Linked DNA regions of Homo sapiens: region 1 is linked to region 2. Evidence: fine-mapped expression QTL. Tissue or cell type: prefrontal cortex. Region 2 holds a variant in brackets; the other region holds the start of a gene. All regions are shown on one strand. Distances are from middle to middle.

Region 1 (4,261 bases), 88 kb before region 2:
AAAAAAAAAAAAATCCAAACTCCTTCGTAATCTTACAAAACTTCAGGACAGACAGCTGAATCTCTCTGGCTGCCTCTTATTTCATCACTCCTACAAGTGTCCCATCTTTAGCCATCTTTATGGCACGCTACTTACTTCTGTGTATATTCTTGCTTTTCCCTGCAATGCTCCTTGTCAATTTTTTACTTGGCTAACTACTGTCTACTAGTCTTGAAACTGTAGACTTCTGTGACTCTCCTCACAACCAGGCAATATGCAGCTCCTCTGTTTTCTCACAGCGTGTTACGCAAGTCTCACTTATCACACTATCACGCTGTGAGTCTTCCTTATAAGATGGAGAATTATCTGAGGGCTTTCATCTCCATATCCATAGCATATGGTAAGTGCTCAAAACTAAGGAATGACTGAGTGGTCTTGTAAATGGTAGAACTTTCATCTGCCTTAAAATGATCTAACAACTAGCATTTAATAACTCACCCTGTATTGACATTAAGTCATATATATGAAAATTCTAGGCTACCCCAAATAGGTTGTTATATTTAAAAGCTATTCAACACTTACACGTAAGACTTAATGAGAGCTTAGTGATACACAGTATTAAACTTTAGACTAGACAACATGTTAGCGTCAAAGTGGGATTTTACTTACCTTTACAACATCAGCTTTATGCTTTTCTAAAACTTGAAGAGTTTGGGCAGTAATGGAATCAATCACTACCACAAGTGAATGACATCCATAAGCAATTAAACCTTGCCAGCCCCTAGCAAAACAGTAATGTTAAAGTTTAAGTACAGAACAAAGCAGGACGACTTCTTTCTTGCCAAGCCTAAATAAATGATAAGTCTAATTCATATGTACCACCATTAATAAAATCATTTAAACCCAAAGGCCAGTATTTATCATTATCCCACTTAAATAAAAGATCTGGCTAAGCTTAAAATGCTTGTTGAAATTCACTTTTCATTCGGATAAAAAAAGTTCTAAAAGATATGAAAATAGAGACCCGAGGACATAAAAAGGAACTTGTGCCCTCTGACTGTTCTTGTAGGCATACGTCTTTCGCTTATCCGATTTCTAATCCTTAGTATCCACAATGTGCCTGGGGATACTGCGACTAATCCTAGTCCTTCCAACTAAATAAAACGACAAACACTGCACAAGACGTTTCAGTCCTCCTAACAACATCCCACAGCCACAGAATTTTGCTTTACATTTGTCTAATGAGTAGTTTTCAGAGCTGCAGTAGTAATTTATAGTGAAAGGAGAGAGTAATAAAGACGACCTGTTGAAGGCAGGAATGTTCTACACAGGAGGAGCCCGAAAAGAGGTGAAAAGGACAGGTGAAAGAACAGGCGCCTAGCACAGGGTCTGGCACATTGTTGAAAGACAACAGGAATACAAGACAACGAAAAAGAAAAGACAGGATGGGAAAGAGAAAGTGCACAGGGAATTAATGGTGGAGAGAGAGAAGCCTGGAAGCTGGAGGAGAGGAAAAGAGAGAGGAATGGAACGGCAAAAGGGCGAGGTGCAGAGAAAACAGCAGAGAAATACGCGAGAAAGAGGGGAAATGTATTTGCATGGGGGAATTTCCCACACGGGGCTATTATCACTTTTGTAACAACAAAAATCCACCAACTGAAAGCAAGCTCATTGCGTGAGGGCGGCTCCCTGCCTTAGCGAGGCCAAACTAACCAGGGGGTGAAACCTCTTGTCCTTCCCCCTTCCCCCTCACACATTCCTGGCCGATCCTGGCGACCTGGAAGCTCGGCGTCCTCACCAGTCCACCGCCGCCTTGTTGTGGGCGTTGAGGGCCCCCGTGAGGGTGCGCGCCGACACCTTGAAGTTCACTGTGTAGGGCAACATCCCGGCGGCCAGCCCAGGACCTGGGCGCTGACCCGCAACCAGGAAGCGGCGGACACTGTGCTTCCGTTCCAAACAGAGTCCGGGTGGCCCCCTCGGCGCCGCTGTCAGGTTCCTCTAGATTCAAGTTCTACAGGCTCCGGGTTCCACCGCTCCCGGATTCCATCGCCCCCAGGTTCCGTTGCCTTCAGTTTCCTAGGATCCTAGGTTCCGCACTCTCCAGAGTTCCGCCGCTTAGGCGGTTGTGCTAATCTGCGTCAGCTGGGGCTGTATTTGGAAGAAGAGGCGCTGCCTCCAGTCAAGTCTGTTTTTTTCAGGTGGGGACTGTAGGCCTTTGTGCCCTGCTGGAAATCGTGAAAAGCAAGAGAGAAGAGTCCCAGTTATTCTTGCTGCCTTTGATAAGTGAATTTAGGGCAACTACTAGTGCCAGTAGGCATGGGGGATCTACCGATGAAGAAGACACAAAGTCTCCGCTCTCGTGGAGTTTACAGAGAATAATGAATGAGATTAATTAAGAAATGAATGAGATTAATTGAATGAAATTGCCAGACTGAATGAAGTGAATGGCCTGAATATAAACAATTTCCAAATACAGATAACACTGCATATCTGGTGTTTGCAATACTCCCTTCGCACTTGAGGAAGAAGCACTATGTCTGGGGCCAAGTGTGACCCTTTGTCTGTTGCTGGGTACCTTTCATTTCGCACTTTCTCCTCTGCTGCTCTCCAGGTCAGACCCAGTCCTTCCCTCCTTTGTGTTCAGTGTTGGGTTTATACGCTTTAACTATAGCACTTAATGCAATGATTTCTTTTCAGCAATGATATTTGCAGATGTGTGTTTCTCTCCCCAATACATTGTTAGTTTCATGCGCGTCCGTGTGAAGAGACCACCAAACAGGCTTTATGTGAGCAATAAAGCTGTTTATTTCACATGGGTGCAGGTGGGCTAAGTCCGAAAAGAGTCAGCGAAGGGAGATAGGGGTGGGGCTGTTTTATAGGATTTGGGAAGGTAATGGAAAATTAGTCAAAGGGGGTTGTTCTCTGGTGGGCAGGGGTGGATCTCACAAAGTACATTCTCAAGGGTGGGGAGAATTACAAAGAACCTTCTTAAGGGTGGGGGAGATTACAAAGTACATTGATCAGTTAGGGTGGGGCAGGAACAAATCACAGTGGTTGAATGTCATCAGTTAAGGCTGTTTGTACTTCTTTTGTGGATCTTCAGTTACTTTAGGCCATCTGGATGTATACATGCAAGTCACGGGATGCGATGGCCTGGCCTGGGCTCAGAGGCGTGACATTCCTGCCTTCTTATATTAATAAGACAAAACAAAATAGTGTTGAAGTGTTGAGGCGGCGAAAATTTTTGGGGGGTGGTATGGAGAGAGAATGGGTGATGTTTCTCAGGGCTGCTTCAAGTGGGATTAGGGGTGGCGTGGGAACCTACAGTGGGAGAGATTAAGCTGAAGGGAGGTCTTGTGGTAAGGGGTGATATTGTGGGGATGTAAGAAGAAACATTTGTCGTATAGAATGATTGGTGACGGCCTGGATACGGTTTTGGATGAATTGAGAAACTAAATGGAATAAGAGAAGGAGAAAAACAGGTATAAAAGGTCTAAGAATTGGGAGGACATAGGACATCTGATTAGAGAGTGCCTAAGGAGATTCAGCATAGTCCTGCCAGCAAAGATTATTTATTTACTTCAAGAGTTTAGAGTGGCAGTTTGGGGATAGCACCAGGAGATATCAGCTGTGATGGCTTGGAGAAACAGTGTAAACCGGCAGTGTAAACAAGAGCAGGGCATGTATGAGTAGTTGAGAATGGTGAATAGGAGTATGACTACAAAAGATAGGGATGACAAGTTTTTTGGGGCACAGTCTAAGTTGGTCTGGTGTCAAATGAGACTGGGGCCTAATAAAAAGGAGCGTCTATACAGGAGCTTAAATGGGATGTACCTTGTAGCATTCTGAGGACAGGCCTGAATTCTGAGAAGCGAAAGTGGTAAAAGTATTGTCCAGTCCTTTTTAAGTTGGTGGCTGAGCTTGGTGAGCTGTCTTTTTAAAAGACCTTTAGTCCGTTCTACTTTTCTTGAAGACGGAGGCCTGTAAGGGATATAAAGGTTTCACTGACACCTACTAAGAGCCTGAAAAACTGCTTGGCTGATTTGACTAATAAAGGCTGGTCTGTTATCAGACTGTATAGAGGTGGAAGGCTAAACTGAGGAATTATGTCTGACAGAAGGAAAGAAATGACTGTGGTGGCCTTCTCAGACGCTGTAGGAAAGGCCTTTACTTATTCAGTGGAAGTGTCTATTTGGACTAAGAGGTATTTTAGTTTCCTGACTCGGGCATGTTGAGTAAAGCTAATTTGCCAGTCCTGGGTGGGGGCAAATCCTCGAGCTTG
Region 2 (4,524 bases):
TAAATCCATCCCTATCATCCTAGGAGGCAGATCCTCTTATCCCCATTTACACATGAGGAAATGGAGGCTCTGAGAGGCAAAGTCACTTGCTCAACATTACAAAAGCTGCTGTAGAGGGGCAGTGCTGAGGCTTATAGCTATGCCTGCCTAACCCCAAAACCCCTGTGGGTTGAATCTCTGTGCCATGTTATCTCAACACAGCACAATTTTCAATGTGGAAGATACCCAGATAGGGAGTCCTGCATCCTGGCTGATGAGGGGGTGGGGGAAGGAGGCCTCAGTCAGAGCAGCAAACCGGGGAAGTTTATTTCTCTTGTATTGCACCCCACCCCCACCAGCCAGTACAGTGCTGGGGAGAAGCCATGTGCAGACTGTCACCCTTGACTTTGAAAGGCCCAGCTGCCATCTATAGAAGAGGAACTCCAAGCAAAATGACAACTGTCTTTCCAATTCTACCACAGATGCCATTTCACTCTTGCAGAAAACTGTGTTTATTTTCAGAGATACCTTTGAAACTTCAAATAGACAATGACGCTTGCTCAGTCAACCTGTGGCTGCCTCTTCATCTCCTAATGGTGAATTCCAAAAGCAGCCGACAACCCCAGGTCTGGTTAGAGGAGAATGAGACCAGCGGGAGAGCTCGGCCAGGCTGAAAGGATAAAGTGATTGGAACTAAAAGGGCTAAAGACAGGCCAGGGGGAGGAGGGACTCCAGAGAGAAGGGAGAAGCTAGGGAACATCAGGATGAACCCCAAACCTGCTAATGCCCCTTCTATGCTCAAATCCTCTCTCCTCAAACACAACCTTCCAATAGCACAGCTAGTCCCCAGCTCTACCAGCGCTGGGCCCTGCCCCTTCAAGACCAGACTGTACAAGGCCCAGGATTCAGGCCGAATTAGCTCTGACTCTGATAGTGCCCCATCCCTCATGTACCTTGACTGTCACTTGCTCTGGCACCCACCATTAGATCTGATTATCCAAGACTGTGGATTCAGTTCCTCTTGATGCCCCCTTGCTGCAATTCATTTGATGTGACTCTCCAGACATTTTATTCTAACTTGCTATGAGCTAGGCTTTGTGCTGCATCCTGCAAAGGATCAAAGGAGTTGAATCTTGGCTCTGCTACTGGAGAGCCCTGAGCAAGTTCCCTAACAACTCCCCTCCTTTTCTGTAAAATGAGTATACTATACCCACCCTGCTGGCTCTTGGGATGTCATCATCATTAAATATATTAAGGCACCAAGCTCAGCTTGGAGGTAGCTGGGACTTTGCTAGGTGGTATGAGATGGAGGCAAACGGCCCCAGTTAAAAGCTCACCTGCAACCAAGGCACAGCTGCAGGTGTGTGGGGTGTATGTCTGGAGAATGTGCAGCAGCAGGCAATAGTGTGTGGGCAGAGGTTGGAGGAAATGTGAGAGAATAGGATAAAAAGGTAAGTGTGGGGCAATGGCTCCACCATGGTGCCCTGGTGACTTGCACCTAACCAGAGAAGCTACCTCTTGAATGGCTTGGCACAATGCCTGTGCTCCTCCAAGGACATGAGGCTTGTAGGAGCTGCTGTGAAGCCATCTCCCACTCATCTCCCTCTCTCCTTGAGAGGTTGTCATGAATCAGTTTCTCAAGGTCTCCAGGGTGCTGACAAGGTTTGGCGCTTTCTGCCCTGTTTCCCCCACTCCAAAAGTAGAGCTGCAGAACACGAAACTGTTCAGCCAAAATCTGCAAGTGCCCCAGCTCATGGTGTAGTCATCTGATCCCTTCCATTTCAGGGTTGCTCAGTTTGGTGTTTGGGAAAGATCATGGGGAACTGGCCCCCCTCTTCACTGTCTATATAAAAATAATAACTGTCTAAACCTATAAGTGGTTCACTGTCTATTACCAGCTGAATTAGCCAGGCTTTGGCCTTGGCTTTGTTTTGTCTCATGTGCATGCACTTGGCAACAACTAAACGTGAAATTGTAGAGGTGGAATATTAGGGTGAGAACGTATTTGTGAGGTTTTTGAGCTATATCATCCTTTTGGATTTCTGACCTTTTGCCTTCTATTTTCACAGCTAACCCTAGGATGACTGGCCTCTGACACTTGAGCCATCCCATCATCTGTCATGGGTTGACCCATCCATCCCCTCAATGAGCCTGACCTTCAGGACCACTGACAGAGGAGCAGTCAATAGAAATTAATTGTTAAATACCCAGAAAATCTGAAATGGTATTTAATATGCAGTTCATCAAGAGCAAAAGTTCCTTAAATCTTCATCTAGAAAAGTTATTTATAAGGGATGAATATGTTGTATGAATATGTTGTATGCAAATATTATATTCAAGGGCAAGACCATGAAAACAGTTTAAGAATCCGACAGGGAATT[A/G]GATAAAGACATCGGAGTGCACTTGTCAAAATACAGCTATCAAGAATGATGATGTTGAAAAATAGTTTAGCAATATAATTGTCTAGAACCACAGGGAGTCTGAGATTTTACCCAACTTGTGAGTTAACAACTCTGCTATAGCTTCATGAAAGAAGACACAAGACTCCTGGGTCAGGAACAAAGGTCTCTAATACTCACAGCAATATCAGGAGCCAGAATTTCAGGATCCTTTTTCCTGCCAGTTTCTCAAGTCCTAATTACCACCGAGTTACAGGAAAGGGCCAGGTAACACTAGCACTGCCATCAGTGGCTGTATTACAGAACAGGAACTCCAAGCTTAGGAAACCCAAATCTTTTATAGTTAACAATGAACACATCTGCCATTGTTCTGAAGGGAGACGCTACCCCAATCTTCCACACCTGTTCACTATATAAATATCTGTGAAAAGATAGACAGAAAAATAGGTGGAGAATGCCTCTGCTCACAAGATGTGCAGAAACGTGAGAGGCTCATGGAGAACTGTTTCCCTACAATGACAAAATGCTGACGATATATTGTTATGTAAAATAAAGCAGGCATTTTTCACCTCATTTTCATGAAATATAGTGTGTTTATATAGATATTTAGAAAAGTATGAAAGGACATTCATCCAGATATCAATAGAAGAGTTTATTATTTTTGCTAGTTGTAAGTTCAAACTTTTCTAGTAAAAATAGATTACTTGTGAAATTATTTTTAATCTTTTTTTTTTTTTGAGATGGAGTCTTGCTCTGTCGCCCAGGCTCGAGTGCAGTGGCATGATCTCAGCTCACTGCAACATCCACCTCCTGGGTTCAAGCAATTCTCCTGCCTCAGCCTCCTGAGTAGCTGGGATTATAGGTGCATGCCACCATGCCCAGCTAATTTTTGTATTTTTAGTAGAGACGGGATTTCACCATGTTGGTCAGGCTGGTCTCGAACTCCTGACCTCGTGATCTGCCCACCTCGGCCTCCCAAAGTGCTAGAATTACAGGTGTGAGCCACTGCACCCCTCCTAAATGTCAATTTAATAACTGAGGGAGCCCTTAAAATACCCCGCTGACTTCCACACGGGTGTGTAAAATAGAATCTGCTCACGTCTTAGAGGAGATAAGTACATGCTTAATGTTCTTAGGAGAGACCTGCCTTTTGACATGGAAGCTGTGGTATTGTTGACAAGAGCATACCTCCTTAAACCATGCAAACCACGTTCACATCAAAGCTGCCTACGAATGATTATTTTCCATGATGCTATGCTCCCTCCTGCCTGCCTCAGTGGCAAGTGTGACTCAGCAAGTGTATCCAGGGCATCCCTCACTCTTACTTATTTTTGCCAAATGCAGTGGAAATGTATAGACTTTTTTTCATATTTATGTTGGCTGCAGAGCATAAATCTGAATAGGTTCTCCAAAGTAAGCTTTTTCTGCATGCATTTGCTCCCAATGATGATAGGTATTATGAATTGCTTTATAGTAATCATTATCCTTTTCCATATGTTTTACGGTTAGTCTGTGCTATAAACTTGTTTGATTTAATGATTTGGGTTCTCTCTCTCTCTCTCTTCTCTCCTCTTCTCTCTCTCTCTCTCTCTCTCTCTCTCACACACACACACACACTATACAACATACAGTTTCTTGTCTTTAAACAGGGATAGTGATTACCTTATAGATTGTGATTAGGATCAGATAAACTATAAGTAAAGCCCTGTGGTATAATGTGTGGGACAAAACTAACACAATTTCAAATTTTCTGCAACAAGTAAACAGTATTTTATAATTGACAAAACTAAAAACGAACTTTAAACTTAAAATTTCATATTACACAATTGACAATTCAATTAACTTTCCAATATTAGTGTCTCTGCGTATATATGTGTACAGAGACATATGTAACTTATTTAACTTTAAAGTATATTTTCTAATAGCTATTTAAGAGCCATCAAACTTTCCAAAAAAAGAGATAGCTTTTAAAAATAAGTGTTTCAACTTGTGATAGTTACTTGCATAAATTGATAATTTAACCAGCTAATTATTAAATCTATAATAGACAGGATGAAGCAGCATTAGGAGAGGGTATTTATCAGTTGCCTGGGGGCTGTCTCATAGCTTAGTTGAAATTCTTTTGGTTGCAAATGTCACAAACCCA

Which allele goes with the higher level. Alleles are on the strand shown, and positions count from the first base shown. SD is a standard deviation of normalised expression in the study named.
In carriers of allele G in region 2, the expression in prefrontal cortex of the gene that starts at base 2,105 in region 1 tends to be lower than with A alone (moderate effect, 0.49 SD a copy in BrainSeq).

The links. PIP is the estimated chance that this variant, and not a neighbour inherited with it, causes the effect.
Region 1: WDR11-DT starts here. The variant in region 2 is fine-mapped to the expression of WDR11-DT in prefrontal cortex (BrainSeq, PIP 0.95).

The regions. Positions count from the first base shown.
Region 1 is chr10:120,849,023-120,853,283 of GRCh38, reverse strand. WDR11-DT (WDR11 divergent transcript) reads left to right here and starts at 2,105. Exons shown (of 3, transcript NR_033850.1): 1 at 2,105-2,590. It overlaps WDR11 (WD repeat domain 11), which reads right to left and starts at 1,922. Exons shown (of 29, transcript NM_018117.12): 1 at 1,778-1,922; 2 at 649-760. The coding sequence starts at 1,863. RefSeq lists enhancers at 1,438-1,497, 1,192-1,735, 1,508-1,977, 2,138-2,257, 1,736-2,280.
Region 2 is chr10:120,761,200-120,765,723 of GRCh38, reverse strand. The region is part of intron 2 of LINC02930 (long intergenic non-protein coding RNA 2930); the gene reads right to left. It overlaps WDR11-DT (WDR11 divergent transcript), which reads left to right. Exons shown (of 3, transcript NR_033850.1): 3 at 2,049-3,912. Among named protein-coding and RNA genes, the nearest start is that of WDR11-DT, 88 kb to the left of the region's middle. The variant A/G (reference allele first, on the strand shown) is at 2,361.